Linked DNA regions of Homo sapiens: all the other regions are linked to region 4. A link means that fine-mapping ties the variant in region 4 to the expression of a gene that starts in the linked region. Tissue or cell type: whole blood. Region 4 holds a variant in brackets; each other region holds the start of a gene. Each region is shown on its reference strand, or each on the opposite one. Region 1 holds the start of MAOB (monoamine oxidase B). Region 2 holds the start of NRGN (neurogranin). Region 3 holds the start of ALOX12 (arachidonate 12-lipoxygenase, 12S type). Region 4 has its middle 14 kb from the start of ARHGEF3. Region 5 holds the start of CLEC2L (C-type lectin domain family 2 member L). Region 6 holds the start of CMTM5 (CKLF like MARVEL transmembrane domain containing 5). Region 7 holds the start of PPBP (pro-platelet basic protein).

The links. PIP is the estimated chance that this variant, and not a neighbour inherited with it, causes the effect.
Region 1: MAOB starts here. The variant in region 4 is fine-mapped to the expression of MAOB in whole blood (TOPMed, PIP above 0.99).
Region 2: it holds the start of NRGN, and the variant in region 4 is fine-mapped to the expression of NRGN in whole blood (TOPMed, PIP above 0.99).
Region 3: ALOX12 starts here. The variant in region 4 is fine-mapped to the expression of ALOX12 in whole blood (TOPMed, PIP above 0.99).
Region 5: CLEC2L starts here. The variant in region 4 is fine-mapped to the expression of CLEC2L in whole blood (TOPMed, PIP above 0.99).
Region 6: CMTM5 starts here. The variant in region 4 is fine-mapped to the expression of CMTM5 in whole blood (TOPMed, PIP above 0.99).
Region 7: PPBP starts here. The variant in region 4 is fine-mapped to the expression of PPBP in whole blood (TOPMed, PIP above 0.99).

What each region holds. Positions count from the first base shown.
Region 1 is chrX:43,880,287-43,884,362 of GRCh38, forward strand. It overlaps MAOB (monoamine oxidase B), which reads right to left and starts at 2,164. Exons shown (of 15, transcript NM_000898.5): 1 at 1,968-2,164. The coding sequence starts at 2,013.
Region 2 is chr11:124,738,049-124,742,124 of GRCh38, forward strand. It overlaps NRGN (neurogranin), which reads left to right and starts at 1,894. Exons shown (of 4, transcript NM_006176.3): 1 at 1,894-2,051. The coding sequence starts at 2,037. RefSeq lists silencers at 1,593-1,652, 1,713-2,032.
Region 3 is chr17:6,994,039-6,998,114 of GRCh38, forward strand. It overlaps ALOX12 (arachidonate 12-lipoxygenase, 12S type), which reads left to right and starts at 2,011. Exons shown (of 14, transcript NM_000697.3): 1 at 2,011-2,214; 2 at 2,788-2,989. The coding sequence starts at 2,080. The region is part of intron 2 of ALOX12-AS1 (ALOX12 antisense RNA 1); the gene reads right to left.
Region 4 is chr3:56,814,213-56,818,288 of GRCh38, forward strand. It overlaps a transcript of ARHGEF3 not described here. Among named protein-coding and RNA genes, the nearest start is that of ARHGEF3, 14 kb to the left of the region's middle. The variant T/C (reference allele first, on the strand shown) is at 1,509.
Region 5 is chr7:139,521,688-139,525,763 of GRCh38, forward strand. CLEC2L (C-type lectin domain family 2 member L) reads left to right here and starts at 1,998. Exons shown (of 5, transcript NM_001080511.4): 1 at 1,998-2,430. The coding sequence starts at 2,241.
Region 6 is chr14:23,375,077-23,379,076 of GRCh38, forward strand. It overlaps CMTM5 (CKLF like MARVEL transmembrane domain containing 5), which reads left to right and starts at 1,970. Exons shown (of 6, transcript NM_001288746.2): 1 at 1,970-2,301; 2 at 3,273-3,425; 3 at 3,593-3,793; 4 at 3,955-4,000. The coding sequence starts at 2,176. It overlaps IL25 (interleukin 25), which reads left to right. Exons shown (of 3, transcript NM_172314.2): 3 at 549-1,327. The coding sequence ends at 804.
Region 7 is chr4:73,986,326-73,990,388 of GRCh38, forward strand. It overlaps PPBP (pro-platelet basic protein), which reads right to left and starts at 1,865. Exons shown (of 3, transcript NM_002704.3): 1 at 1,631-1,865; 2 at 1,192-1,327; 3 at 114-1,049. The coding sequence starts at 1,778. The coding sequence ends at 947.

The DNA of each region.
Region 1 (4,076 bases), not on the chromosome of region 4:
GTATCCCATCACCCTTCTTGAATTGACAAGTCTTCCGGGGCAAGAACAACATGATCCATTTTTGAATCCCCTACACAGCCTCCCTCAATTCCTATTGTCTGAATAAATGGGTAAAACTCTTGAGGGGCTTGTGCCATATTTCAGACTCTGCAAAGCTATTTTACTCACATTGTTTCACTTGCCCTGTAATCCAGCAGTGACTAACTGGTGTTATCCCCATGTAGCAGATGAAGCAATTGAGTAAGACTGGGCCTTGGAAGGCTGCTTTCTTGGTTCTTAGAACAATGCCTATTCCGTGGAATGTTCTTGAGAAAAGTCAGATCTACTCATCAGTACCTTGTTTTGATCAGAGTTCGGGAGGATGAATGCAGAGGTTTCACCACTGCTTGCAAAAATAGTTAAACCCTTATCTACCTTTTCCAGATGAGTCTAACATGAGTAATGTGATTGAACCTGAAGGTGTGGAGTATGAATCAGAAAGGGACAAATCATGAAGGGAAAATAGAAAAATCTGAATCCATTGGGCATACTTTAGTGAGAAAATGACTTCGGGGGCCTGAAAAGAGAAACTTCAGCTTCTGTAAGATGGGGTGCTATGCAAGGCAGCATCAAGAGGCACTTAGTAATATTTTCTAAAACACCTAAGTAGGTATGCTTTTAAGTCCAACTTCCTCTAGGAGAGAAGATGTCAAAAATACTGAAAGAAAACTGAATTTATACACAGCCTTGGCCAACCTCAGCATGTTGTGATTACGCATCTATGTACCTGCAACACCAGGCACAGGGCCTGGCATGGGCGAGCTCACCAGAGCCTGCTAGACAGATGTGGTAGCCTGAGATCCCACCCAAAGGGGAGAAAGGCTGGAGCAGAGGCAGGAGGACTGGACCATGGTCAGCACCAAACATCCAATGCCTTGGTTTTTTCTCCAGCCACAGGAGAGTCAGAACAACTCTGTCCTGCCCTCCTGGCAGGGAGCAAGGCCAACCTCTACTTCCCAAAGGCCACTTGAGAACTCCTTAAGGCAAGTCTTAGACAATGCATCCACGGGTCTGGAGGTGTCCTAATTACTGCTCAAGTACTAGGCAGCGTTAGGAGGTGGGCCAAAGCATGCCCAGGGGGCCATTAAACAGGCTGTGCTGAGAGCATCATTGATTCCCATTGACCCTATCCCATAGGATCTGCCTGATCCTCCACAGAGGGTAAGTTCCACCACTACCCCCATCCCTTCTTCTGGCTTCTATTTTTCGGTGCCCTTGGTATGTACACAGCCCCGTGTGGCTGAGGGGGTAGTGTCTGTCCCCATCCTTGCCAAATATGGGCTAGGCCAGAGAGCAAAGCTGCAGCTTGGCCACCCTGCGCTAGGAGTGGGGTGGGGTGGAGTGGGGGTGCGAGAGGCATAAGAGGAAAACAGGCATTTGCCAAAAAGACACTGCAGCCTCAAGTTAGATCCGTGACAATCACAGAACCTCAAAGAATCAGGAGGGCCTGGAAAGTCTTTGGCAATCGATTGGCCAGGCTCCAACCTCTTCTGTTCAAGGTCGTTTTCCTGACGCCAGGACAACAATACGATGTGGTGCATGCTTGCTCTAAGCGAGGGTGCGGAGTGTCCAGGTCAAGTTGGAGCAAATGACTGACCTTTGTGCCACCTCCCCACCCCTTTTCCCTGGCTTCGAAAATTCCAGCAAGCGAAGGCCTAGCAGCCTTCTGGGGGAGAAGTTCAAAGTCTGGCCCCAGAGCTGCAACAGGCTTCCAGCCTCTGGCCTCTGCGTCCGGGAACGCACCCAAAATTGCCCCCAAAGGAGGGTTCAGTGCACGGCGCTCTGGACCCACTAGAGCCCTGCCCGTGCGTGGACAGTCTGGGGACTCCAGGGTCAGCCCCTGCCCCACGGCCGCCCCCCGCGTCTCCCCCAGGCAGCCACCTGTCCGAGCGCGTGAAGAGGAAGGAGGGCGCACAGCCGCGACTAACCTGAGATGCCGCCCCCCACCACGACCACGTCGCATTTGTTGCTCATGGCGCTCGCCCCGTTCCAGGCCTCCCTGGTGCCCGCTGCTCCGTTTTCTGGGCCTCGATCCCAGTCCTGCCTGCCAGCCAGCCCGCCCGCCTGCCCGCCGGCCTGCTGCGCGCTGCCCCCGTGCACCAGCGCCTCGGCGAGCCGCTATATTACCAGCCCCGGGAGCCCGGACGCGCAGCCCCGCCCGCCCGCCTACGCGCAGGCAGGCCGGGTGCAGCGCAGGGCCACCGCCCCCGCCCGCAGCTCTGCAGCCCAGGCCCGGGGAGGGCGGGTGCCTGGGCGGAGAGGTCACCTAGGACTTCAAAGAGTCCCGCCCCAGAATCCCCACTCCTCAGCCTTCTGCACGGTATTTTCCCATCAGCCTCCCTAGTGCACTATCAGGCTTGGCGGCTGGGAGGACGGCAAATTGGGGTGTCTTCCTTCAGGGCCCCAATTACTCCTTGGGTGTAGGGCAAATAATAAGAAACTTCCATTGAGTGATTTCAAGGTACCAGGCACTGTGCTCAGTACTTTATGCATGATTCCTGTTCAAGCTTACAACAATCCATTTTGCAGATGAGGAAAACAAAACATGGTGAGTGACAACATAAGATAAAAAGTCAGAAAGAAAAAAAAAGAAAAGAAAAGAAAAGAAAAGCTAGGAAGATTCCAAGACCCACTTTGATTCACCACACAGTACTACCATTTCTTGGCATTCCCAGCCCACCTCACCCTCCTTCCAAATACCCACTTCTTTCCCCACTCCCCCTACGTGATTAAGTCAGGAAGGCTCCTCCCTAGCATCACAAATGCCGCACCTTAAATACACTCTTAAGCAATGCAGTGTGTCCTTGGTGGAAGCTGTTGAGGCTAGACCCCAGGAGACTAGTGGCAGCAGGGAAGAGGTGGTGGATCGGCATTGTGGGATTCAGAGCCCCCAGAAGCAGCAAGCCAAGTTACCTGTGTGACCCTGGAACGTGGGTATGAGGAGCCTGGTTTAGCCAAACACAGGGATGATTCAACAAGATTATAGGAGTTTAAGCTAAGGTGACTCCAGGGAAAACAGAAGTTTATGTCTTCTGGACAGTAGGAAAGCCACCTCTGAGAACTAAAAGTGGGAAGCAGCAACATAGAATGGCTTTTCAAGAAATAAACAGGTGAAGTGCTTCTGTTCAGGCCTGAGAGGGGCTGGCTTCAGATCTGGGGAATTTGATGAGAACCTGAAGCAAACCTCTGCCTCATCCCACACCATTCCCTGTATCTACCTGCTAGAAAGGTATCCTGAGCTTCTGCTGTCCTCAGACCAGAAGACAATTTGGGCACTTCTGTGACTGAGTCACAGGTGACAGGAAAAGTCTTTGTCCACCTCTGACTTCCATCTGTCCTGCTTTGGTATAAAACAGTCAGACCCTGTGCCTGAACCCCGATCCCTACCTCATGTCCCCACTGCAGAGAATGAAGCTACCTCACCCTGCAGACAGTTTGTGCTGACCTCCTCCTTGCCATCCCCTATCTGGTCCACTTCTGTTCACAGGTCCCTGAAGCTGTGGGCTTCTTGGCTGTGGATACTCTTGTCTCCCCACCTAGCCTGCAAGTGAATTACGTGCCAGGTGAGGTAGGATGAATGGAGAGGATCTGCTACGGTTTGAATGTGTCCCCCAAAGTTCACGTGTTGGAAATTCAATCCTCAATGCAACAATGTTGGGGCATGTTTAGGTTCCAAGGGCTCCATCCTCATGAATGGATTAATGCCACTATAAAAAGGGCCTGAGACAGCAAATTTGACCTCTTGCTCCTTCTAACCCTCATTGCCCTTCTGCCATGGGATGACATATTGGGAAGGCCTTTGCCAGATGCCAACATCTCATCTTGGAATTTGCAGACTCTAGAACCATGATACAATAAATTTCTCTTCAATGTAAATTACCCCCCTTAGGTATTCTGTACTAGCAGCACAAAATGGACTAACACGAGATCCTTGTGGGATCTTCTTGGAATCTCTTTTGCTTAGTTCCAACAGTGCAAGTCAGCCAGGAGCCTGGGGATCTAAGACTTTGAATAAAAGGCAGACTGATAAACCCTTC
Region 2 (4,076 bases), not on the chromosome of region 4:
CCCCCCTTCAGTTCTGACCAGCAGGAAGAAGGGCCCAGAGGCAGCGCAGTCTGCAGAGGGATGTTGCCTAGCAACTTGGGAGACTTGACTGCAAACTCACCAAATCCCGAATTCCTCAGCTCTAATTTGGGAAGAGAAAAGCACAGAGTCTAGGCCTGGTATCCACTCTGTCCCCCAATTTCCCCCTTTCCTCTCCTCTCTGGATTCTGGAGTTGAAGTCCAGCAGGAATTGGCACAACAGAAGGCCACAGATGTGCGTGTCATTTAGGCAAGGGCCTGAGTTCCCAGGACATCTGGCCACTTGGAGGAGGTGGGGAGATGAAAGATGTGCCAGAGACAGATTGGGGAACAGATTTTTTTTTACAAAAGTGGGTGGGTCCCAAACATGCTGGGAGAGACACCCCTACACCCCAAGCCCTGGAATCCCGGCCAGCATCCAGCTCAGCCTGGGACCCCAAGCTGGCTAACCTTATCCCCACCCTGAATGGACTCAGGCATTTCTCTCCCACTCATTTTTCCTTTGGCAAGCAGAGCCTCGGGCCCAAACATCTAGGTGGAAAGGAAGCATGTCACCGCCACGTGGTCCCTGGTCATGGCCAGGGACTGGGGATGCACAGCAGAGCTGTCTCAGGATCTGCTGTCCCAACCAGAGCCACAGGGCATTTCCCACCTTTGCTCCCAGCAGGAGCCATCCTTTCCTCCTTCCCTTCTCTGGGACCTTAGCTGAGAAGACTTTCTAGTTTTCTCAGAGAAGGCCTACCCTACCCACATAACAAGCCACACTGCCAGCTTTTGTACCCTGCCGAGTTGGGGGAGGCTGACGACCACAACAGTGGCAGTCTGTCCCTCCCAGATGCTCTTTCCATAGCTCCCCTTCCCAGCCTCTCACGAAGCCCACATCCTGCCTCATCATGGACCCAAGAGCCAATTACTTCGAATTCTCTACACTTGGGTTTAGGGTATTTTTCTTCTTCTCAGGAGCAAGGGCGAGGATGGCCAGCTTTTGTCTTATTCTGAGGCAGCAGATCAAAAGGTTAGGCAGAGTCTGGTATGAAAGGGAGGAGGATACTTCTTCCAAGTCTGTGCCCATATATAAATACATACAAAATAGGTGTTGTGCATATATGATGTTGTTTGTTGCAGCTCATGTAGACAGATCGATAATAGATACGTCATGCCGACAGCTTGAGTTGGGTGACTGTCCGTGTGCGTGCGTGAGCGCGCGGGCGCCCGCAACAGGGTGTCCGCATTTACCTGCAACTGAAGGGCTGCGTAGTTATTTTTGCAGGTTGTATCTGCAGTGTCTGTATGCTGGAAGAAGGCCTGGGAAAATCATATGTGGACATGTGGGGCTTGTGAGCTTTTGTGTGGACGCATGCCCATCGCCAGGTTGTACCAACAGGTTTCTCCGTCTGTAGCAGGAGTGATGATGAGACCTTTTTACCGCCCGTTAGGGAGCCTTTCTTTGCGGACTGAGGGGGAGTGAAGTGAAAGGGAGCCATATTTGGGACTCCTGCTAGGTTGTGGAAGTATGGAGGGATGGGTGAGGGGTGCGTGGTTTTCTCTGAGCGGGAGTAGGTGCTGTGCCCAGATGTGGGTGTTTGTGCTCGGGGTGTCGGGGGCCTCCTTCTGCCTACTCCGGCGTACATCTGCCTGGCAGTCTGCCGCCTAGCAAGCCAGGGGATTGCGCCCGGGAGGATGGAGTGTGTAGGAGGCTTGGATACAAGCGTGTAGGCGGAGGGGCTGGGGCAGGAGCGGGAGCGCGGCGCAGAGAGCCGCGAGAGGGCGTGGCCCTCCCTCCACTTCTCCCCGCCCACCCTGCCGGAGGCTGCTCCTGATTGGCTTCCCGGCCGCGGGGCTCAGGTTACATTCGCGAGCGGAGCCGAGCGCGGGAGACCGGACCCGAGAGCAGAGCTGCTGTTTCGGCGCGGGTCGGCTGGCGGCCGACTGCCCCAGAGCCCCCACCCGGCACCACACAGACCCCACCCCCGCCCTGCGCCAGCCTTCGTCCCCGCAGAGGACCCCCCGACACCAGCATGGACTGCTGCACCGTAAGTTAGAGGGCCCGGGGGAGGGGCACTTGGCGGGGTCCGCTGCGAGAGGCGCCTGAGAAAGCCCTGGAGGGCGAGAGAGGGATGGAAGTGGATGCGGAAGACCTAGGAGCAGAAAGAAAAGGGGTCCTTGCCGAGACGTGGGTGGTGGATGGTGGAAGGCGCCCGCCCGACTTGGAAGCCCTAGGAAAAATGCTCCTCAACTCGCGGGGGCGTCTGAGCGCCCATCCGTTAGACAGCCTAGGCTGGACTGGGAGCTCGGCAGGGCTCTGCAAGAGGGGAACTGCGGGTTGGATGACAGGAGGAACTTCCTCCCCAGTGAGACGCTGGCAACCATCGCCTGGAGACACTGCAGCGACTCCTTCCTCCCGTCTTTCGGCCCCCACCCCGTTCCCCATCCCACTGCGCCGCCGTCGGTGGGCGGACAGGCTGATCCTCATGACCCTCCAACGATCGCCTAAGCGCCCTGTGCAGCGCAGGCTGGTCCATATTGGTTAGCTCGGTAGTGATGCTGGCTGCAAAGAGCCTAGTCAGGGTGGTTCTGGGGAGGGGTTGTCCCGGCCCCCAAGGCCTTCTCGCTCGGAAGGGGCTGGGTGAAGTGACCGCGAGAGAGCCCTGCTGGCGAGGAAAGGAAGTGTCTGCAATTTGTCAGCGCCCACGCGGAAACCTGGGTACTGCAAGTGCCCAGCGCCCGAGGGGTTTGCTGTAAAGGTGACTCGGTATGAAAGCGCCTGGCATAGGCCCTGGCTCCTGCCTCACTGGAAGAGTACAGTGATCATACGTATATGAAATTTATTTGTTTGCTTATTTATTTTTTGCCTCTGCACTTGGAGAAAGACTATTCCAAAGTCCTTGTATTTTCAGTCATTCAGTCAACCAGCTAATGATACACGAGGTTACTGACTTTGCCACCTTATGGCATAGTAAAGAAAAAAAAAGTGGGCTTTGGAAGGGAAGGATAGCCCAGTTCTATAATAGGTGAGACTTTCCCATGTCTGGGTACCAAGAGGCAGAGAACACTTAGGGGCAAGTGGTGGTGGTTGCGATTTTAACTCTTATTAGTTTAAGTAATAGTTGCCAGTTTGTGAATGCCTGCCCTGTAGCCAGCACTTTATATTTAATCATAGCAACAACCCTGTGAAGTAGGTATTATTTCACAGATGTGCCAACTGAGGTTTAGAAAGTTAGATTTTTCCAAGGAAGCATGACTCCTAACTGTGGAGGCAGGATTCAAACATAGCCCTGTCTTCTTCGAAGAGCTGTGGTTTAACCTCTCCTCTAAATATTTACTGATTATAAAAGTAATCTGCTCATAATAGAAAACGTAAAACCTAGAGAAAAGTATGAAAAACAAACATGTCAGTCACCTACAGTCCCACCCCCTGGAGAACACCCCGATAACATATCTCCTTCCAGCCTTTTCCCTCTGCTTGTTATTCTACAGGAAGCAATTTTTTGGTTGTGAAGGGAGAAATGGGCTCCTCATGGAGGTTCCTGGGCTCCACTGAGGAAGAGCCCTTCCTCCCAGCAGTGTTGTATAAAGTAGAGAAGATAAATGGATGGTGGGTTCTGGGAAATGAGCTGGGGGGAGGGGAGAGGTGAGGATGACAGGGGAGTATTGCTGGGGAAGGGGAAGTGGGAGACGTGGTCACTGGAAAGAGGTGAGTAAACAAAGAATCCAAGAGGCCAGGGAAGGAATGGAATTGGTCTCCTCTGTGTCTGCAGTAGTAATTAGAGTAGGATGTGGGGGTCCCTGCCTGGAACTGTTGCTCTTGAGTGCCCAGGGAGCCATACTGAGGGATTAGTAGACATGGTTGAAGTCAGTGTCCCTTAAAAAAGGAGAGGCTACCCACCCAAAAGGTAAAAGAGAAGCAGATACACAATTATCTCCATGGCCCAGGGCCTGGGGCACCTCCTCCAGTGCACCCTGTGCACAGGAGCCTTCCCAAGTCATGCCCTGTCCTAGGTCTGCAGGGCTAAAGGGCTGAGCAAGAGAGAGCACCATTATCAGACTGTGCAGGAGGG
Region 3 (4,076 bases), not on the chromosome of region 4:
TAATGCTTATTCAATAATAAAACTGTTTTCTTTCTTCACTACTTTCGTGGAGAGGTTTTTTCTGGGTTGGGAGAAAATTTTGCTTCTAATTATATTCTCCCAACATAGCGCATGTGCTTAAAAGGGAAACAAAAGCAGGAGGGGGAAGGGTCTAGAGTGATAAGAGCTCTAGTGAGAGGCTAGGCCTAGAGAGGGACATGGAGAAATAGCATGCGGAGAGGAACGGTAGAGGAGCAACGCTAACATTCAGTTGTAAATAATACAATCATAGCAGCTAATACATAGAGGGACTACACGCCAAGCACTGTTCTCACTGTTTAGCCATATTCACTCATTTAGCATGCGCAGTAGCTTGAATCCGGTTTTTCAATTATTCATTCCCTCTCTCTGCACGTGGCCGTAGAGTACACTAGAGTGGGCAGAAAATAAGTCACAAAACAGCAAAGAAACAGTGCTTTTGGAAGTAGGTATGAGACAAACTCTTTTCTAGGCAAAAGTAACCCACGAAAATGTGTGTGGAAAGGCCAGATCCTACTATTAGGCAGGATGGGAATTTGAGCCATTTTATTTGGATATTACAGAATGGGGTGACCCCAGAAAACTGGAAGAACTGGGGACCAGCAAATGGCCGACCTGCAGTCCTGAGCAGAGGATGTAGGCCAGAGTGGACCTAGAAGATAAGAAAGGGAATTGAATCCAGTAAGGGACAGACACTTTATTTTTTTATTTTTATTTATTTATTTATTTATTTTTGAGATAGAGTCTGATCTGGAGGCTGGAAGGCGGGGCTAAAACTCCCACTCACTTACCTCTACCAACAACTAGGCCACCAAGTCATTTCTGAGGACTGGCTCAAGAAAGCAGATTTAACTTACACTGGCCTAGCCCAGGCCACCAGATGCATCCACGGAGATCCAAATGCATATAATCACTTGAATCAAGATCTAGACAGGGACGCGTGCAGCAGGCTTCATCTGACTGATTCCTGACACGGGAGAGAAAGCCTAAGCTCCGAATCATCCTTCAATGTTTACAAAGGCCCTAAATAGCAGTGGGCTAATTGCTGTTCCTGGATTTCCAGGAGACCTGAGACCCATGAAGGAGCAGGAAAGAGCTTGGGGATAAAAAATTAATCTGGAACCTACTGGAGCGGAAGGGGCTGCACTCACCTGGAAAAGACAAAGTTCTTGGGAACTGGCCACGTAGGCCAGGTCCCTAAGCAATTCCATCCCGCACCCTAACACCCCGACTGGTGTTCCTGGGTCCCTAACATTGTCTGTACCCGCTTCGGAGGTTGGACAAAATGAGTTTTTCACTGCCCTGCCTCAGGCCTCTCTCAAAGGTCTGGCCCATGATATTTGGTGTACATTGGGACCCCAGCGCCCAGATATTTGAAACGGGGTGGGGAGCGGGTGTTGAGCTGCTACATTTCCAGGTTCTAGGTACCCTGGGGAACCCCTGGTCGTTGACGGAAGCACAGCGTTCAAGGGCGGCAGAGCTCAGGTACTGGAGGACACATGGGCCGCGCCGGGTCTAGCCGCGGGACATCCCCAGACCCCAGCACGGCCTCCCAGGCCGACCTTCCAGAAGCCGGCCCACTGCCTTCCCCGGGTCCCAGCCCAGAAAAGCGGAGACCTTCCCCTCCGTTTGGAAGATGGACTCATCCCCTACTTCCTCCTGGCTCCCCAGAAGACCTGGAGACCTCGGGAAGTGTTCTCATCTATGTTCGCTCCAACCCGGGGGCTCAGGCCCACCTCGATCCCGCCTTCCCGGGAGGTCCAGGAAGGTCCCGCCGCACCCACCCCGTTGGCCTCACCCTGGCTCGGGCCCCTTTATCATCCTGCAGCTACGCTCCGACCAGGAGGCACAGCCAGTCCCCACAGCCGGCTCTACCGCTCTGCTCGCAGGTTTGGGCTAGTCTGGGGCGGGGACTTGGGAGCGCCTAAAACTTGCGAGGAGGGCGGGGCCGCAGACCGGTCCTTTAAAGGTTGGAAGTGGCCCCGAGGCGCCGGCAGCCCTGGGCGGTCCCGGGAATCGCACAGGACCCGGCTCCCCTCGCCTAAGCTGCTGGGGGGCGCCATGGGCCGCTACCGCATCCGCGTGGCCACCGGGGCCTGGCTCTTCTCCGGGTCGTACAACCGCGTGCAGCTTTGGCTGGTCGGGACGCGCGGGGAGGCGGAGCTGGAGCTGCAGCTGCGGCCCGCGCGGGGCGAGGTCAGCGCGGGGAGCGAGGGGAGCTAGGGCAGCGGGGACCCCGGGCCCAGGCCCGGGCCGAGCTGGGCTCGCGGCGGGAGGGCGGGAGGCTGGGGGCGAGGTGACAGCGCGACCTCGCGGACTGGGACTTCCACGAAGCTGGGACGAGGTGGGCAAGATTAGGGACAGGGTCCGCAGCTGGGATCCCGGGCTGGGCTCAACCCCATCTCCCTTTCCCGCCCCTGGTCCCGGCAGCCCCCAGCTCCTTCTCCCAGTGACCCAGAGCCAATGTAAGTATGAGGCCAGAGGTCAGACGTGAAGCTCCTCCAAGAACCGGCGCGGGGAGAGCTCAGTTAATGGGACCCACGTGGGCGATGCTGCTCCAGCATCAGCTCCAGGCGCTGCGGGCCCTCGTCCTCCACCCGACTCCGGGCGTCTGAGACCCAAAGAGCAGGTTGTGCGGGGGCGGGAACGAGGCGATGCTGTCTTTGGAGGCCCTGAGAAACTGAGGTTGCACAGGAGCGCGGCTCTGTCCTCGAAACGGCCTCAGTCGGGTCCCTCCTACTAAGTCTGGCCTGGGTCCGGCCTGCACAGGAGGAGGAGTTTGATCATGACGTTGCAGAGGACTTGGGGCTCCTGCAGTTCGTGAGGCTGCGCAAGCACCACTGGCTGGTGGACGACGCGTGGTTCTGCGACCGCATCACGGTGCAGGGCCCTGGAGCCTGCGCGGAGGTGGCCTTCCCGTGCTACCGCTGGGTGCAGGGCGAGGACATCCTGAGCCTGCCCGAGGGCACCGGTGAGCAGGCGGCGTCGGGGAAGGAGGCACAAGGTCTCGGGAACTGCTGCGGGGCTAGGAGGGCAGAGTTAAGGACGGTCGGAGCAGACTTAGAGGATGTATGGGCCCAGGGCAGGTGAAATGTAGGGATCCCAGGGTGCTGGACAGAAAACGGGAAGGAGTTATGAATTCCCAAAGTTTTACACAGGCTAAGAGAGGCTGCGTGTGAGGCTGGAGGCAGGGAGTAAGTGATCTGGAGATCCCATCTTCCAAGAAGGCAAAGACAGAAAGTGGGAGTTGCAGCGATCCAGGAAAACAGAGAAGCAAAGTGAAAGTAGGAAGGAGATGTAAAGGTGACTCAGAAGTCAGGTGAGGGGACCACATGGAACAGGAGGGGGTGGGTGACCCGTGAGAGCAGACAGCTAAGGGAAGAAAACATAGGATGCTGGAGAGCTGGTTTGGTTGGAATAACACGGAAGACACCCGTGAAAGACAAGAAGCACACTGGCCCGCAGGAGACGAGGAGGAATGAGGATGGCAAATAGTGAATTTTTTTTTTTTTTTTTTTTGAGATGGAGTCTTGCTTTGTTGCCCAGGCTGGAGTGCAGTGGTGCGATCTTGGCTCACTGCAACCTCCACCTCCTGGGTTCACGCCATTCTCCTGCCTCAGCCTCCCGAGTAGCTGGGACTACAGGCACCCCCCACCACACCCGGCTAATTTTTTATATTTTTTTTAGTAGAGATGGAGTTTCACCGTATTAGCCAGGATGGTCTCGATCTCCTGACCTCGTGATCCGCCCTCCTTGGCCTCTCAAAGTGCTGGGATTACAGGCTTGAGCCACCACGCCCGGCCCAAATAGTGAATTTTTAACCATGGGTAATGAGTAAAAGAGAGATGAATCCAGAGATGAGTGAGGGCAGTAGGGATGGAACATCAAATCTATGACTTTGAGACAGGTGAGTGTAAATGCAGAAAAGACCCAGAATAAGTCCATAGATACAGATTATGATAGTAAATCCAGAAAGATGAGGTTTAAAAAAAAAAAAGCAAATGTAGAATCTTTTGAGGACAGGTGAAGGCGTGGCAGGTGAGGTTTAAGATGTGAAA
Region 4 (4,076 bases):
CCACAGGCTGCATGCATCCCAGGATGGCTTTGAATGTGGCCCAACATAAATTTGTAAACTTTCGTAAAACGTTATGAGACTTTTTTTTGCGATTTTTTTTAAGCTCATCAGCTATTGTTAGTGTTAGTGTATTTTATGTGTGGCCCAAGACAATTCTTCTTCCACTGTGGCCCACGGAAGCCAAAAGATTGGACACCTCTGCTTTAGAATGAGAAGCCTGGGTTCAAATACCAAGTTTTCACTTGCCAACTATATGACTTTGGACAGTTTACTTAATGATGACAAACATCAGTTTAAGCATCTATAAAATGGGGATATGAGAGTTTCAAGGTTTTAATGAGTTAAAAACACATGAATAATCCAATAAGATAATATGTATGTCAGATTTCTAAGCATACAGTTAGCACGTCATGCTATTATTAACCCTTCCGGTAAATAAATCATCCTTCTCCCTTTTTTTTTAAATGAATTAAGGAAAAAAGGTGGAATTTGGAGAACTTTTCCAACACTCCTTGCTTCCAAAGACATTAATTCTTTGATTTAATCTTATAATTTCAAAAAAGGATATGACTGTTGCACATATATAAAAGAAGCAGCAGAGTGAAGAGTGAACTGACCTAAATTAGAAGACATGGGCCAGGTGCAGTGGCTTACACCTATAATCCCAACACTTTGGGAGGCCAAGGTGGGAGGATCACTAGAGCCCAGGAGTCTGAGACTAGCCTGGGCCACAAAGTAAGACCTCATCTCTACAATAATAATAACAATTATTATTATAACAATTAGCCAGGCACAGTGGCATATGCCTATGGTGACAGCTACTCAGGAGGCTGAGGCAGGGTGATTGCTTGAGCCTAAGAGTTTGAGGCTGCAGTGAGCTATGATCGTGCCACTGCATTCCAGCTTGGGCAACAGAGCGAGACCCCACCTCTAAAAAAATTAAAAAAAAAAAAAAAAGAAGACATGGTATACAATCTGGCCCTACCATTAAGTCTGTGGTCTTGGGCAAGTCAAGTGATCTCTCTGAGACATAGATTCTTGAACCATATAACAAGGTGATTTAAACATAAATGTGTATGCTTCTGTGATTCTATTAAACAGCAAAGACTGAAGTGTATATGGAGTATTATCTTGATTTTATGCTATTTAATTTCAGGAAAGCTTTCAAATAAAAATTCATATCTTATGTACTGATGAAAGCACCCTGTCTAAAATTAGCATGTTTGGTATAGGCAGCCCACATTTTGGGTTGGTTCAGCATGGTAATATTTTATGAAGGCTCATCAGAAAATTAAGCTCAATGTACTCATTTGTCAAGAAATGCATATGCATATAGATTCTTTTAATATCAAATGGCAAAGCAAACAAGAGGTTGAAACAGAGGAAAGATCAACTATGAGAAAAGAATTACTGAGGGAAAATGGAGACAGACTACAAATGGGATAGAACTGGCCTAAAATATACCACTGTCACTTAAAAATAGGTACTCGGTTACATAGTGCCTGTGT[T/C]ATCTTTACAACAGCATTTGGTTCCTACACTGTCTTCTTCCTACAGGCCTGTTATGACTATGAGAGCTATCTGTTCCTTCAGTGGACCAAGTCTTGCTGCCTTGTGGATTCTGCCCAGTCACAGCTTCCCTTCTGCCCTTCAAGGGTGGGCTGCTTGCATCTAAGTGGTAGGGCCATACCTAATTCTGTTCTGGATATAACACAGATGACTGACTGGGCTTGGTGGCTGATGTCTATAATCCCAGTACTTTGGGAAGCTGAGGCAAGAGGATCACTTGAGGCCAGAAACTCAAGACCAGGCTGACCAACATAGTGAGATCCTGTCTGTACACAAAATGTAAAAATTTAGGAGGGCATGATGGTGCATTCCTATAGTCCTAACTACTTTAGAAGCTGAGGCAAGAGGATGGCTTGAGCCCAGGAGTTGGAGGTTACAGTGAGCTATGATTGTACCACTACACTCCAGCCTGAGTGACAGAGCAAGACTCTGTCTCTAAAAAACAAAACAAAAATACACATCTAGATGGTTGCTGGCATGAGATGCTAAACCACAGGCTTCTCAAAGCTGAGGGTTCTGTGCAACCCTGGCCAAACTTCTTACCCAAAATACTTACTTACATTAATGTTGTCCATTTATAAGAATTAGAACTAAAAACAAAGATACCTTGCAGCAACTTCTAAATAGTGCCCCATAAATAACAAATAGCACTAGAATTACTTAATAAATCATAATCTTCATTATTCTCTAGCATCTGTTTCCCCTACTAGATTGTACGCTCCAAAAGAATCATGAATCGCTTGTACAAGGCTACATCCCCATTGCCAAAAGATGCCTGGCAAGTGATGAGAGCTCAGTAAATGATGCTGAGAGCCGAAGAGGTGTTTGCTCTCTGCCAGGCACTGTGCTTTGACTTTAATGAAGTATCTCAAGTAATCCTTACAACAATCCTATGAAATGAGTACTTCTATAGTAGGAGAAACTGAGGCACAGAGAGTTCAAGCAACTTGCCCAAAGTCACACAGCTAGTAAGCAGCAGAGCTGGAGTTCAAATGCAAGCACCTTGCTTCTAGAACCTCAAGTTCCAATTCTGAAGCGGAACGTTAATTCACAGGCCAGTCACAAACCAGGGAGTCCTGAGGCCAGAGCCTATGATGCAAGGGTCAAGGATTTGAGCCTATATGATATGACTGAAAGAACACTGAATGAGAAGCAGTGCTGACTTGGGTCCAGTCCTGTGACGTTTTTGCTCACCAGCTTCCCCTGCTGATCAATCAGGGGGTTGGATGCTCACTCAAGTCCTTGTCAGGTGTCAACCCCAAGTGCTAGAGTCACCCTAGACATAATCTCACATCCAGAAAACTACAGAGCACAGTGTGCTCTTCCACCTTCCACGAGGGAGAACCACCAAAATATCAACCATCAAGCAAGTTACTCAGTCTCTCAGAACTTCAGTTTCCTCATCTGCAATCAGGACCAAATAGCACCTACTTCAAAGGGTGGAGGTGAAGATTAGAGAGAAACCTGGTTAAGGGGCTACCACATAGTAATAATTTCATAAACAGTAGCTAGGTTTATTATGGTCCCAAACAGAGCGAGGAGATAAGTCTGGAGGAGGAACGAATCTCTTCAAAACCCAGGAACCAACCAACCAGTTGGAAAGACAGCTCTGAAACTCAGATTTTTAAACAATTTCTAACAGTAGACTACATGTGTGGCACATCATCCAAGCAAAAAGTTCCATATCAGATTCTCTTTCAACAAATGGAGTAATAAAGACAGGTTTGAGTTAACTTCAGCTGGAACAGAAAGAACCATTATGACTTGGGAAGTTCACACCTGAGTGCTGAAAAGCTAGAAAATAATGTTAGGTGCCATTTGCCTTATGCCAGACCTGTGACAAGCATGTGACATATATTACCTTACTGAATCCTCACAACCTGCTGAAGAGGGTACTGCCCTGTTGTATAAATGAGGGCATGGAGGCTCAGAGAAGATAAGTAACTTGCTCAAGATCACACAGCTACTAAATAGCCATGCCAGAACTTACTTAGTCTGCCAGAACGTTGATGGTCTTAACCACAAAGCTACACCCTTCCCCAAAGATAGCGTGTCATTGGCCCCAGCATGCCCCGTACCCACAGGGCAATCATGTCCACACCATGGGCAAGTGGCTTTATAGGAAGGCCACGCATGGGGGATCAAGTGGCCTTGGGTTTTGGTCCCTGTTTACCCACAGACTGTGGCAGCTATGGACAAGTCATTTAACTTTCCTGGACCCTGTTTTGATCAAACAGAATGTACTGGATTAAAGTTTTTCAGTCCAAGTCTTGTGGAACATTAATCACTTACATTTTATACCCGAGAGGTTAGGGATAAAAGAGGAGCCAAAGACATAATGAGCTAACCCTCTGTCCTGGGACTCTGGCTAGGGGAAGAAGTGGAACACATTTGTTACCAAACAGAACTGGGTGACCCTCAGTTCCCTTCTATCTTGAAAATTCTGAAACTCTACTGAAAATTCTGAAATTCTCCTGAAAATTCTGAATTTTATGTGACAGGAGAGGACA
Region 5 (4,076 bases), not on the chromosome of region 4:
CTGAAGATGTAGGCTATATACTAAGGATGATGGGAGCAGAATGAGAGGAAGAGCTAGGGTCCCTGATGATCTTGGAGCTCTCAATCCAGCCCTGGGCTGATCACCTCTAGACTTCTTTCAGGTAAAAAAAACACAAAAAACCAAAAAACAAAAAACAAAAACCTTCTTTCTAGTTAAACTCTTACTGGGGTTTTCTGTTGTAGTCTTGTTGAACCTACTCTGAATGAATGCAGTATCCTAGAGACTGTGCAATCAGAAGCATTAGCAGAAATTTGGTAGGCAAACTAGGGTGCATGGGGGCTACAAGGAGGGGTTAGAAGGACCAAGGAGGAGATGTGTTCCAGGCAGAAGGAAGACAGTGTTCAAAGGCCCAGAGGAAAGAGTCAGAATAGTTAGGTGTGTCTAGGGCTGGCAGAGAAGGGGTGGGAGGAGAGGATGCCTTAGGTAGGAGCAGGACTTTGACCATGAGGGACCTTGAGGCCTTGTAAAAAGATGGCCTTAATCCACAGGTAAAGGGACCCCTGAAGGAGTGGTGAGTTTGCACTTTAGGTAGATGCTGCGGGTGTGGAGGGGGAGGGGCTGGATAGGAGGGAGCAAGAGTGGAGGATGGGAGACCCCTTAGAAGGCTGCTGCTGTGGTCGGGCAAGAGAAGGCATTGGCTTGTACTTGGCCAGTGGCTAGAGGGATGGAGTGCAATGCGCAGACTAAGAGTTTAAAAGGGGCCGGGCGGCCGGGCGCGGTGGCTCACGCCTGTAATCCCAGCACTTTGGGAGGCCGAGGCGGGCGGATCACGAGGTCAGGAGATCGAGACCATCCCGGCTAAAACGGTGAAACCCCGTCTCTACTAAAAATACAAAAAAATTAGCCGGGCGTAGTGGCGGGCGCCTGTAGTCCCAGCTACTTGGGAGGCTGAGGCAGGAGAATGGCGTGAACCCGGGAGGCGGAGCTTGCAGTGAGCCGAGATCCCGCCACTGCACTCCAGCCTGGGCGACAGAGCGAGACTCCGTCTCAAAAAAAAAAAAAAAAAAAAAAAGGGGCCGGGCACGGCAGCTCACGCCTGCAATCCTAGAACTTTGGGAGACCCAGGTGGGAGGATCGCTTGAGCCTGGGAGGCCGAGGCTGTAGTGACACTGCACTCCAGCCTGGGCTACAGAACGAGACCCTGTCTCAAAAAATAAAAATAAAAATATTTTAAAAGGGAGAATTCACAAGAGTCAGTGGCCTATTGGATTTGGGGGAGGGAGCAGGAGGAGCTGGGGATGAGGAACTGAAGATGGAGACAGGAACCAGAGGTTGGGGCTGAGAATGGTGGAGGGGGAAGAGGATCAGGGCTGGAGGCGTGGGGCTTCAGGCGACGCGAGGTCAGCTGAGGCAAGGGGCCAGTGAAGGCTCCGGAGGGAGCCCTGGCCTGGGAGTCAGACACCCGCCAAGCACGCACCTGCCTGGCGCCGCCTTCGGAAATGTCCTTGACCTCAAAATTCCACTTCTCAGCCTCACCTGGGGGCATTGTCAGCTAATAATATGTGAAAGTCCCTGGCGCTTAGTAGGTGCTCAATAAATGTTAATTGAATCTGCAACGTCACTTCGCTTGCTCCTTTAGACTCTACTGTCTCTGTGCTCATCGTTCGGACGTTTCTCTCCTTTATCAAGAGTTTGGGGGTCAAGTCACAGCCCCTACCACCCTCTGCTGTGGCTCCAGGGCAGCCGGGAAGAAAGGCGCTCATCTTCCCTGAGCCTCCCTGCACTGTCCCCGCGAACTTTATTCCCATTTTCACAGATGGTGAGCAGGCGGCTGGGGAGATGGAGCTGAGTTAGAACCAGGTCTCCCGGCTCCAAGACTGCGCTCCCAGCTCGACAGCATCCAGCCTCCAGCCCAGGTGGCGGGGTCGGGGAGCCGGCTGTCCCCGCTCCTCCGCGCCTCCTCCCTCTCCGCCCCTGCCCCGCCCCGCCCGGGTCCACGGCTCCCGGCTCCCGCGCGCCGCCTCGCGCTCCTCCCCAGCCCGGCTGTGCGTGGAGGCTGCGGCTCGGCGGGGCAGGCGCTGAGCGCACCGCGGCGGCACCCGGCGCAGAGGCTCCAGCGCGGGGAGCCGGGCTCAGCCCCGGCCTGCCAGCGCCGCGGTCCTAGCCCACCCGAGGCCGGCCTGGGGGGCCCGCAGGGCGCGCGGAGCGCCGAGTGCGCGTCGGGCTGGGCCCCGCACCCCGGTGCAGGAGCGCGGGCGCGGCGCGGCGGAGCGCCCCGCATGGAGCCGGCCCGGGAGCCCCCCTCGCGGGCCCGGCCGCCGCCGCCCCTCGCCGCGCGCCCCGCGCCCGCCCCCGCCGCCCCCAGGCCGCGTTCGCCCGCAGAGGCTGAGGCCCGCGGCCCCGAGGGGCTGCTGCGGCGATCCGGGTCGGGCTACGAGGGCAGCACCAGCTGGAAGGCGGCCTTGGAGGGTAAGCGCGGAGCGGCCTCCCTCTCCTGGCCCAGGGACCCCTGCCCAGGCCCGACCCGCGACCCGGAGGCGGTCAGAGTCACCTTGGCCGCTGTCCCGGAGGGGAGCGCTGGGAGCGCGGCGCCGGGACGCGGCGGAGTCATTCATTTCAGGGCGGCCAGACGCCGGTTCGTGGGGTGGGGTGGGAGGGAACCGGGGGCCACCGCGAGTCACAGCCTCGACCCCGCCTCTGCTGCGACTCCCTCTCTGACCTTGGAGCGGGCTTCACGCTCTGAGCCTTCGTCTCCTCACGCATGAAGGGGACAAACACTGCCTGACACCCACCAGACAGGCGTGTTGAGAGGGTGGCGGAATCTGTGGTCGTGAACACGCTTCGAGTAAAGTAAGAAAGCTGGAGACCCCAGAGGTGGTGCCCGCCCCTGTGAGAGCCGCGGGGACCCCGTGGTGGTGGGGCATGTGGGGAGGGCAGGGCAGGGCAGGGGTGGAGAATCCAGGAGAGGCTCTTCCTTGCAAGGTCAGGGGTCACACCTACTCCTCCATCAGACTGCCTCAGGGAGGGACCCCTGGCCTGCCTCCGGGGCAGTAACCCAAGTAGAGAATTGATTTCAAGTTCATGAGCTCTTTAAGGAAACTTGTATTAGCTACCGCCGGCGGCGTGTGGTGTGGGAGATGCAGGAGTTGGTGAGAGGGTGGCTGGCCCTTTGGGTGCTTCTCAGGGTGCTCCTGGCACCCTGAATCCAAGGACAAGGAGGACCTGGGCAGCATTAACTAGGGAAGCCTGGAGCCTGGATCACCCATCCTTAGGGAGGCAGTGTCAGAAAAGGAGGGCTTCCCAGGAGTAGGTGACCTCTTAGCAGGCGTGGAGACAGAGGGGAAGGTGTTCCAGACCCAGAGCATGACGTATCCCAGGCCAGGTGGTCAGAGCTACTCTGTGCCACGTGGGAACTGAGCCCTGGAGTACTGAGATGGGGCAGGGTGGAGAGAGACGGGCCTGAAGGACCCAGACGGTGAAGGGCCAGCCAGGCCTTGCCCAGGAGCTTGGACTTTGTTCTGAAGGGGCTACTGAGGGGTGGAGATGGTGGGCTTGCCCTTGGAAGACTGGTGGTGGCCCAGAGGGGTGGGACCCAGGCTCGAGGTCAGGGAGGGGGTGGGGCAGTGGACCAGGAGGGACATAACCAGCAGCTGGGCCAAGGCAGGTCATGGGGCTGCTGAGGATGGCGAGGTGGGGATGGTAATGCCAGCCTTCTGCACAAAGGCTATGGGCCAGGGGACGTGCACTGTCCGAGGAAGGGCTGTGCAGACTCTGAAGCTGGACCACCAGACAGTGGCAGGGACAGAGGAGGCGAAGATGTTGCGTCACCAAGGAGAAGAGCTGTAGCAGAGCTGTGGGTTGTGAAGAGTTGTGTGGAATGGATGGAGGTGGTCAGACACCCCCCCGTGACGCTGTCTCCGGCTTTACTGTTGGAGTGGCCCTGTGTTCCCACGCTTCACTCCTGCCAAAGCTATTTCTTGAAGTTGTTCCCTCCTCTTGCCTGTATTTCTTCATTCATTTATTCGTCAGCATTTCTGAAGGGTCTGCCCTAACCTTAACCCCAGCCCCCATGGTAGGGCTGCTTCTGGGCTGCTGTGGCCCTTTAATGCCTCCTG
Region 6 (4,000 bases), not on the chromosome of region 4:
CTGGCCAACCATGGCCAACATCATGAAACCCCATCTCTACTAAAAATATGAAAATTAGCTGGGTATGGTGGCGGGCATCAGGAGAATCGCTCGAACCCAGGAGGTAGAGGTTGCAGTTGAGCCAAGATCGTGCCACTGCACTCCAGCTTGGGTACTCCGTCTCAAAAAAACAAAAACAAAAAATCAAAAAACAAACAAAAACACCTAAAGTGTAATCATTACAATAAGAAACCTCATGCTGAGTCAGATAGAAGCAGTGCTGGTCAATGGAGGCTAAGGCAGGAGCCTGCTCACCCTCCCCTGCCTCCCTCACGGTCCCAGGACCAGTTGGAAAGCACTCTGTCACCTGCTACCCTCATTTACAGTGGGGAAAATTTAATAAAGGAGGGAGGTGACTTGTTCAAAGTTACACAGCAAGTGGGTTCAGAACTGAGACAAGAGGCCAAGGCCCCAGACGGACCATTTCCTTCTTCTGGCACTCCCATGCCACCCCACCCTCTCTGTTTCCGGCCCATCTTTCCAAGGCCTGACAAGTGCCGCCCCCACAGGTTGGACAGAGACTTGAACCGGCTCCCCCAGGACCTGTACCACGCCCGTTGCCTGTGCCCGCACTGCGTCAGCCTACAGACAGGCTCCCACATGGACCCCCGGGGCAACTCGGAGCTGCTCTACCACAACCAGACTGTCTTCTACCGGCGGCCATGCCATGGCGAGAAGGGCACCCACAAGGGCTACTGCCTGGAGCGCAGGCTGTACCGTGTTTCCTTAGCTTGTGTGTGTGTGCGGCCCCGTGTGATGGGCTAGCCGGACCTGCTGGAGGCTGGTCCCTTTTTGGGAAACCTGGAGCCAGGTGTACAACCACTTGCCATGAAGGGCCAGGATGCCCAGATGCTTGGCCCCTGTGAAGTGCTGTCTGGAGCAGCAGGATCCCGGGACAGGATGGGGGGCTTTGGGGAAAGCCTGCACTTCTGCACATTTTGAAAAGAGCAGCTGCTGCTTAGGGCCGCCGGAAGCTGGTGTCCTGTCATTTTCTCTCAGGAAAGGTTTTCAAAGTTCTGCCCATTTCTGGAGGCCACCACTCCTGTCTCTTCCTCTTTTCCCATCCCCTGCTACCCTGGCCCAGCACAGGCACTTTCTAGATATTTCCCCCTTGCTGGAGAAGAAAGAGCCCCTGGTTTTATTTGTTTGTTTACTCATCACTCAGTGAGCATCTACTTTGGGTGCATTCTAGTGTAGTTACTAGTCTTTTGACATGGATGATTCTGAGGAGGAAGCTGTTATTGAATGTATAGAGATTTATCCAAATAAATATCTTTATTTAAAAATGGCCTAATCTGTATTTGGCATCCGTGGTGCCTGAACATCTCGCGGTCTCCCAGCCTGTCCCTTCTCCTTTCCACCATTGGCCCTCACCTCTGTCCACCCTGCCAGCTCTCTCCGCCCTCCAGAGTTTCCGCTGCACCCTCCCGTCCTCTCCCATCTCTGTCTCCCTGGCCCATCCCAAACACCAGGGTGGGGGCTAGGCCGCGCTCCCGGCATGCTGGAGAGACAGAGGCCCATTGAGGCATTGCAGCAGGCACAGAGCGCCCCCTTGTCCCCCAACAATCCGCCTTTGTCCTCCAGTCCTGGCTGCTGCAGCTTGGTCCTGGGGGTGCTGCCTGGGCTGGGCTCCAGCTCACACCCTCCCTAAAAGGAAATGGGAGAAAGGACCGGCCAAACAAGAGGGTTAAGGTTAGAGAAGGGGGACACAAATGTCTTCAGGCTTAGGTCCCTGGGGGCTCCCAGTCCTGCCCCTGTTCCTCTACTCACATCCCAGCTCCTCCCAGTTTCTTTTCGGACCTCCTCCTCTCCCCTTCCTTCTCTATTCCAGGCTGGGTTGGGCTCTAAGCAAGGGGAGGGATTAGAGCCTCCTTCCTCTCTGCCCCTCCCCATGGGTCTCTAGGGGGCTGGTGCAGGCAGCAGCAGAGGCACTCTGGGCAGCTGGGTGAGGGCCCATCTGGGCAAGGCCCCCAGCGCCTGCCTTCTCTCCCGGGGCCCTGTGGGCAAGCCTCCTGCTTCACTTTCAGGTTTCTCGAAGTGCCTTCTTGCTCCTGTCTGTTTCCCCATCCTGCCAGATTTCTGTTTCTCTTGCTGGGCTTTTGGCAGTAGGGGGCTGTGTTGGTGGGCCCTACGAAGATGCTCAGTGCTCGAGATCGCCGGGACCGGCACCCTGAGGAGGGGGTAGTTGCAGAGCTCCAGGGCTTCGCGGTGGACAAGGCCTTCCTCACCTCCCACAAGGGCATCCTGCTGGAAACCGAGCTGGTAACAGCTGCCTCCCAACCTGGTGCCTCCATCTCCCTGACCCCCGGCTCCTGGCCAGCCTTATGCCAGCCCCCAGCTCACCCTTCAGTAGCCTCCTTCCCCAAGCCCTCTGGACACCTCTCCTGCCCGCAGCTGCCCCTTCTTCGTCTCCTACTCTGCCTTCTTGCTGCCTCTCCACCCGGAGACATTTACAGCAGGTTTCAGTTGCAGCAGGAAGGACTGCAGTTAGACAGGGTGACTTTTTGGGACATTGAGGAAGCTTGAGACATAGGGATGGGACAGGGGCAATGACAGCCTCTAACATGGCCACTTCTCAGCACGTCCAAGAAGTCTAACTATCAAAAAGGGCAGACTTCCTGCAACTGCACTTTATCTGTGGTCTGCTGCCCAGAAACATCTCTTCTCAGGAAAGGATCTTCCCCTGGTTACTTAGCAAGACCACAGTGTAGAGTTAAGGCCTCTGCACGTATGCCACCCTAGGTCATCAGAGCTAAAGGGGCTCCCAGAAACCACTGGGCAGCATCTGCCTTCTCTCTTGGCATGGAATCAAAGGCTCTGGTCCTTGTCAGGGGGCTTTCAGGCATCTGGGGGTGGGGAAAGCATTATGAGGCAGGGGGCTCCTCTTGGTCCCTGTGGAGTCGGGTCTCTGTGGGCACAACTCCAGGGGCTGGCATTCACACTGTACCTATGAATTACTGTGGGATAGTGCTCCTGGGAGCCATATGGCTTGGCCAGACTGCTGGGGTTGCTGGGTGAGCAGAGTGGGAGGCCGGAGACTGCCCTTGACCGGCAAATGCCCTGCAACGGTGGCTCCTGACACCAGGGGATAGGGAGATGTGCCAGAGTCCTTCCTCCCCTCCAAGGACAGGTAGTAGGTGCCAGCCTAGGGGAGCTTCCAAGGAGGGGAAGGCAAAGCCCTGGCCCCTGCCTGTGTCCCCTTCTTGGCATGTTCCACATGCTCGGTCCTGCAGGCCCTGACCCTCATCATCTTCATCTGCTTCACGGCCTCCATCTCTGCCTACATGGCCGCGGCGCTACTGGAGTTCTTCATCACACTTGCCTTCCTCTTCCTCTATGCCACCCAGTACTACCAGCGCTTCGACCGAATTAACTGGCCCTGTCTGGTGAGGAACCCTGACCCCTAGCCCAGTTTGGGGCCCTTCCCTCTCCTCTAAATGATGCATTTTCCTTTCCTCCCCGAGCTTCTTTCCATTTCCACACCACAGCTGGGCTTTGTCCCATGCTATGCCCTGCACTCAAAGGTGTGCTTTGACTCACACTGATTTCACAGCTGCAGGGCCACGGGCAATCAGGAGGACCACATCCGCTAGATCTACTCTCCCACTCAGCAAAGGTCCAGCCCCAGCCCTGGCCTGGCTTGACCCCCCCGGGCTGGCATACTCCAGCCGCTGTCCCCTGGGTTCCAGCCCCAGCGCCTGGCTTCTGGTCCTGGTTGCTCTGGTTCATCTGCTTCCACTCCCTGGGTAGCAGTGTGAGCGCTCTGTCTCTTGAATGTGCTTCATATTGTGTGAGGGGTATCCTATGGAGGGGTTCAGAATCCCTCAGGGTCGGGCTGCTGGCTAGCCTGGAAAACTTCAGGGTAACGCCCCCTGCCTTCTGAGGTCCTGTTAACCCTGCACCCCTGGCCCCCAGGACTTCCTGCGCTGTGTCAGTGCCATCATCATCTTCCTGGTGGTCT
Region 7 (4,063 bases), not on the chromosome of region 4:
TTAGTAACTTTTGTTGTTCAAACTGTGAAATACCAAGTATACAAAAAAGAGAGGAAAATTAAAGCTTTTTTTCCCCAACAATCCTGTTAAAATTAATAATAGATGACAACAAGTCAATAGCAAATTTTTATTTCATGTGAATATTTTTGTAAGAATAGTGTGGGTATAAGTTTTAGGGTTTAAAAAATGAATGAAAGTTCTGTTGATGAAAAAAGTAGAATTTAGAATTAGGAGTCTAGTAAGGTTGAAGTCCTATATTGTACTTATTTATAAGGCTCATTCTAATGATAGAATTATAACTATGTAGATATGTTAATTCATTTTCATCATCTATTTTTGTTCTACTAGTGGCAAATATATTCACTTTAAACCAGCTAACCACAGTTTATAAGATTCATATTCACCAATTTATTATTTTAGTGTTTGATGGCTAAAATAAACATCAGAATAAACTTTCAGGGAGTATTTTAAATAAGACATCCTAGGACTAAGACACTGAGAGACTCCATTAAGTTCCTAAATATATTAACAAAAATGTATTGAGCAAATATTCTCTGTTGGGCTCCATGTAATTCCTATTATCATTGACCATTATGAAATCTAATAATACCCATGAGTATGTCTAATAACCATAAAGTAGACCAGGAAAAATCAACCAAGTTGTGTTAGAATAGAAATTTTTAAAGAAAAAAATGCAAAGTACAGTCCAATGTTTAGGCAAGAATTAGAGGGTTGAAACCAGGCTTATTTATTTTCATCTTCTTTCTGCCATCTTTTAACCAACCTTCTCAGAATAAAATGTGATTTTTGAGACAGAATGAAACACATATCCAAATTTTAATACAGTAAGAATAGGTATCCTGAATAAATGAGAACTCTAGAAAATCAAGGTTTCAAAATTCTACCCTTCCTGGGAGTTAAAGAAGTTTGGCAGAAACAGAACAAATTAATCAGCAGATTCATCACCTGCCAATTTTTTCTGTACAATTTTCTTGATTCTGGGAGCATCTGGGTCCAGGCAGATTTTCCTCCCATCCTTCAGTGTGGCTCTGCAAAAGAGAACAGGGTTATCTGTGGGTGTCCTGATCTGAATATCAGAACTAATCCATGAGACTGGAGGAAACGAGTGCATATGTGGATGGAGGTAGAGGGTTTCTCTGATAAGGCAATAGCACAGAAACAGCAACTTACATCACTTCGACTTGGTTGCAATGGGTTCCTTTCCCGATCACTTCCAAACTTTGGATGTTTTTGGGATGAATTCCAGAGGTTGTCTTTATACACATGCAGCGGAGTTCAGCATACAAGTCACTGTCTAGACTTTCCTCTAGGGTAGAAAATGTGACCTATTGGTGGTCATGAATATTTTCCTCAGGTCTCTTATTTGCAGATTGAGGGCAATTGTACCTCTCTCATAAAGCCATTGTGAATATGATCTGTAACGCTTTAGTAAAGTGCCCAGAAGATTGCCCAGCACACAAGAAGTGAGAAGTGACCCCCCTGTGTGTCTCCTCCAATTGGAGTTATTGGTATAATGGCCCTCTCCAGCCCCAAAGGCACCAAGCTAGTCTTTACCCCAGAGACAGGTGTAGCAGAAGCAGCAACAAGTGCAGAGAAGCAGGGCCTCTACCTTTGCCTTTCGCCAAGTTTCTCTTAGTTTGTCCTTTGGTGGAGGAAGCCAGAGCAGTCAGCAGCAATGACAGAAGCAGCAGCACCTGCAAGGCATGAAGTGGTCTCGCACTGTTACAGGAAGGGGTGGTATCAAGTCTGAGGCTCATGGTGGAGAAGGCTGAGCTAGAGTTGTTTCCAGAACCAGAAGACCTCTGAGTGAGGGTGAGTTGCTGCCTACAAGTCTGCAGATAAGTGGCTTCTCATGCCCTGAAGATGTCATTTATATGCTCTTTCTCAAAGCCAGTAAGAAGGAAGAGGTAGGAAAGGAGGAAGTGAGGGTATGTGGTGATACACACATAAGCATTTGAAGCTGTGCCCAACCCAGAGAAAGACCAGACAGGTCAAATTCCTACTAACTTGCTTAATGTGCATCACTTCACATTCCCACTCTCCCTTTCTCAATACTTATCTTCCTTACACCTGTGTAAGAACTCCGTTCAGGAAGGTAAGAACTAGACTGAAATACTACATGCATTTTCTTTGTATGATTTATAACAATACGCCCTGCCTTTTCTATACTGCAGTTTTTAGGCTTAATAGAAACTTTAGGAGCACCTGAAGGCACAAACATGTGGCCCTTGAAAGAGAAAGTTATCTTTGCTTGCCAAAGAAAGCAAATGTTCTTTTCATGAATGTTGATAAATATTGGGATTGGTTTGGAGCATGTAAGTAAAATAAGAGCCAATTACCGTCAAAGGTTGTCTTTGGATTTTAGCTTATTGGATTCTTTCTGCCTTCAATCTATATTATCTTTTGTAATTTCATCTAGAAACTACAAATGAAACTCATCCTCCTTTATATTACAAAAGAAGCTACTTGTTTCTACCACCTAAGAATACCTAAAAAGTAGGACCCAGCATATTTATTTTTCTTTTTATTTTTAATTTAACAGAAAAATTATATAATTTATTGCAAAAGATTCGTATGCTGCAGATGTCTTTGAAATAAAACACAAATTTCTCTTCATCATTTCTCCACATTCCTACTATTCAGTGGTAAACACTGGTAACAATTTTGCATTAGTTTTCAATTCTGTCTGCACTTATATGCACACATGTATATGTATACAATGAGACACGTTTAAGACATAGAGGTACACATATACATAGAAGTATTGTATATGGATCACTATACAGCTGACTTTTATCCTTCAAAAAATATGTGTTCCTTATCTTTTCAGGTCATCTTAATGTAGTTTTCCCCCATTCTTCTTAATGACCATGTGACGTCCTGTGATAAGAACAATAGTTACTCAACCTTGCCTTGTTGGTGCCCTTCACGGTGTTTCCAATTTTGCACTATTAGAAATTGTGCAAGAAATGTCCTTACCAAGGAAAATATTTGTTCCTGAATTCTCAGACCCAAATTAAAGGTTTTGGTCTGAAATGCTATATCCCTACAAAGATAGAGAGGTGGACCTACACATTACATGTTGGCTTTATGTTATTTTCTGGTTCTCTGTCCCATCTGTAAGACTTCCTTCCTCAATTGAACCATGCACTTTTGTAGGGAGTGGCATGTCCTGTGTTTGTTTGAATGTCTCATGTATCCTATAACATGTAGGATACTTCAATATAAAGTAGGTCTTAAATAATTAATAAATCAATGAATACGTATCACATGAAAGCTTCCCTATCCTTTCTAATCACCTACAATTCCAGGCCAAACTCGACAGGACCCAAAGCAACTATGCTATTTAAATTTATTTGGAAGATTGTCAATAAAGAAGAGGCAGATGTAAGTGGCACTGGCAACAAGTTTTCTTCCTTTTACAACTATGTATAAGTCTCACAGAATATTATTTAAATTTTCCATATTCTTTTCTTACTTTTCATATCCTTAAATTTTAGAAGAAATGCTTAAAATACTAAATGTTCAAAATTACTCTCTATCAAAAAGATGAATATAGTAATTTTTTAAATCATGTTTTTGTTTTCAAGCCAATTTTCCCTATTGTTTAATAGTTATCTACTATGTCTACTCAAGTTCTCAGGTCCTGTTTTTAAATGCGATAACCTACAGACCACATTTGACAGTTTACTTTAGAAGTAAGCAGACTTCCAAATTAACTCGCCCTGGAAAGGTTTCGTGACTTGATGGTGACATTCTATCTCTGAGTAAAGTATTTTATTACGAGTTCCTCAAATGATTGATGTACTAATTACTGTAGAACCTACTGACACTAAATAGGACAATGATTTATTTCTAAGTTTAGCTGAAACAAAAAGTTTTATTGATTGTTTTGTATGTAGACATTTAGCCTGTATGCTGTAATCTGTAGCTAATGATTTTAACTTCGGTATTGTACCCTCCAATGAAAAAGAAGACAACTCTGGTATGAGGAGTTTTTCTGCCTTATTTTAAGCTTTTCTATTATATAAAGCCCTTGTAA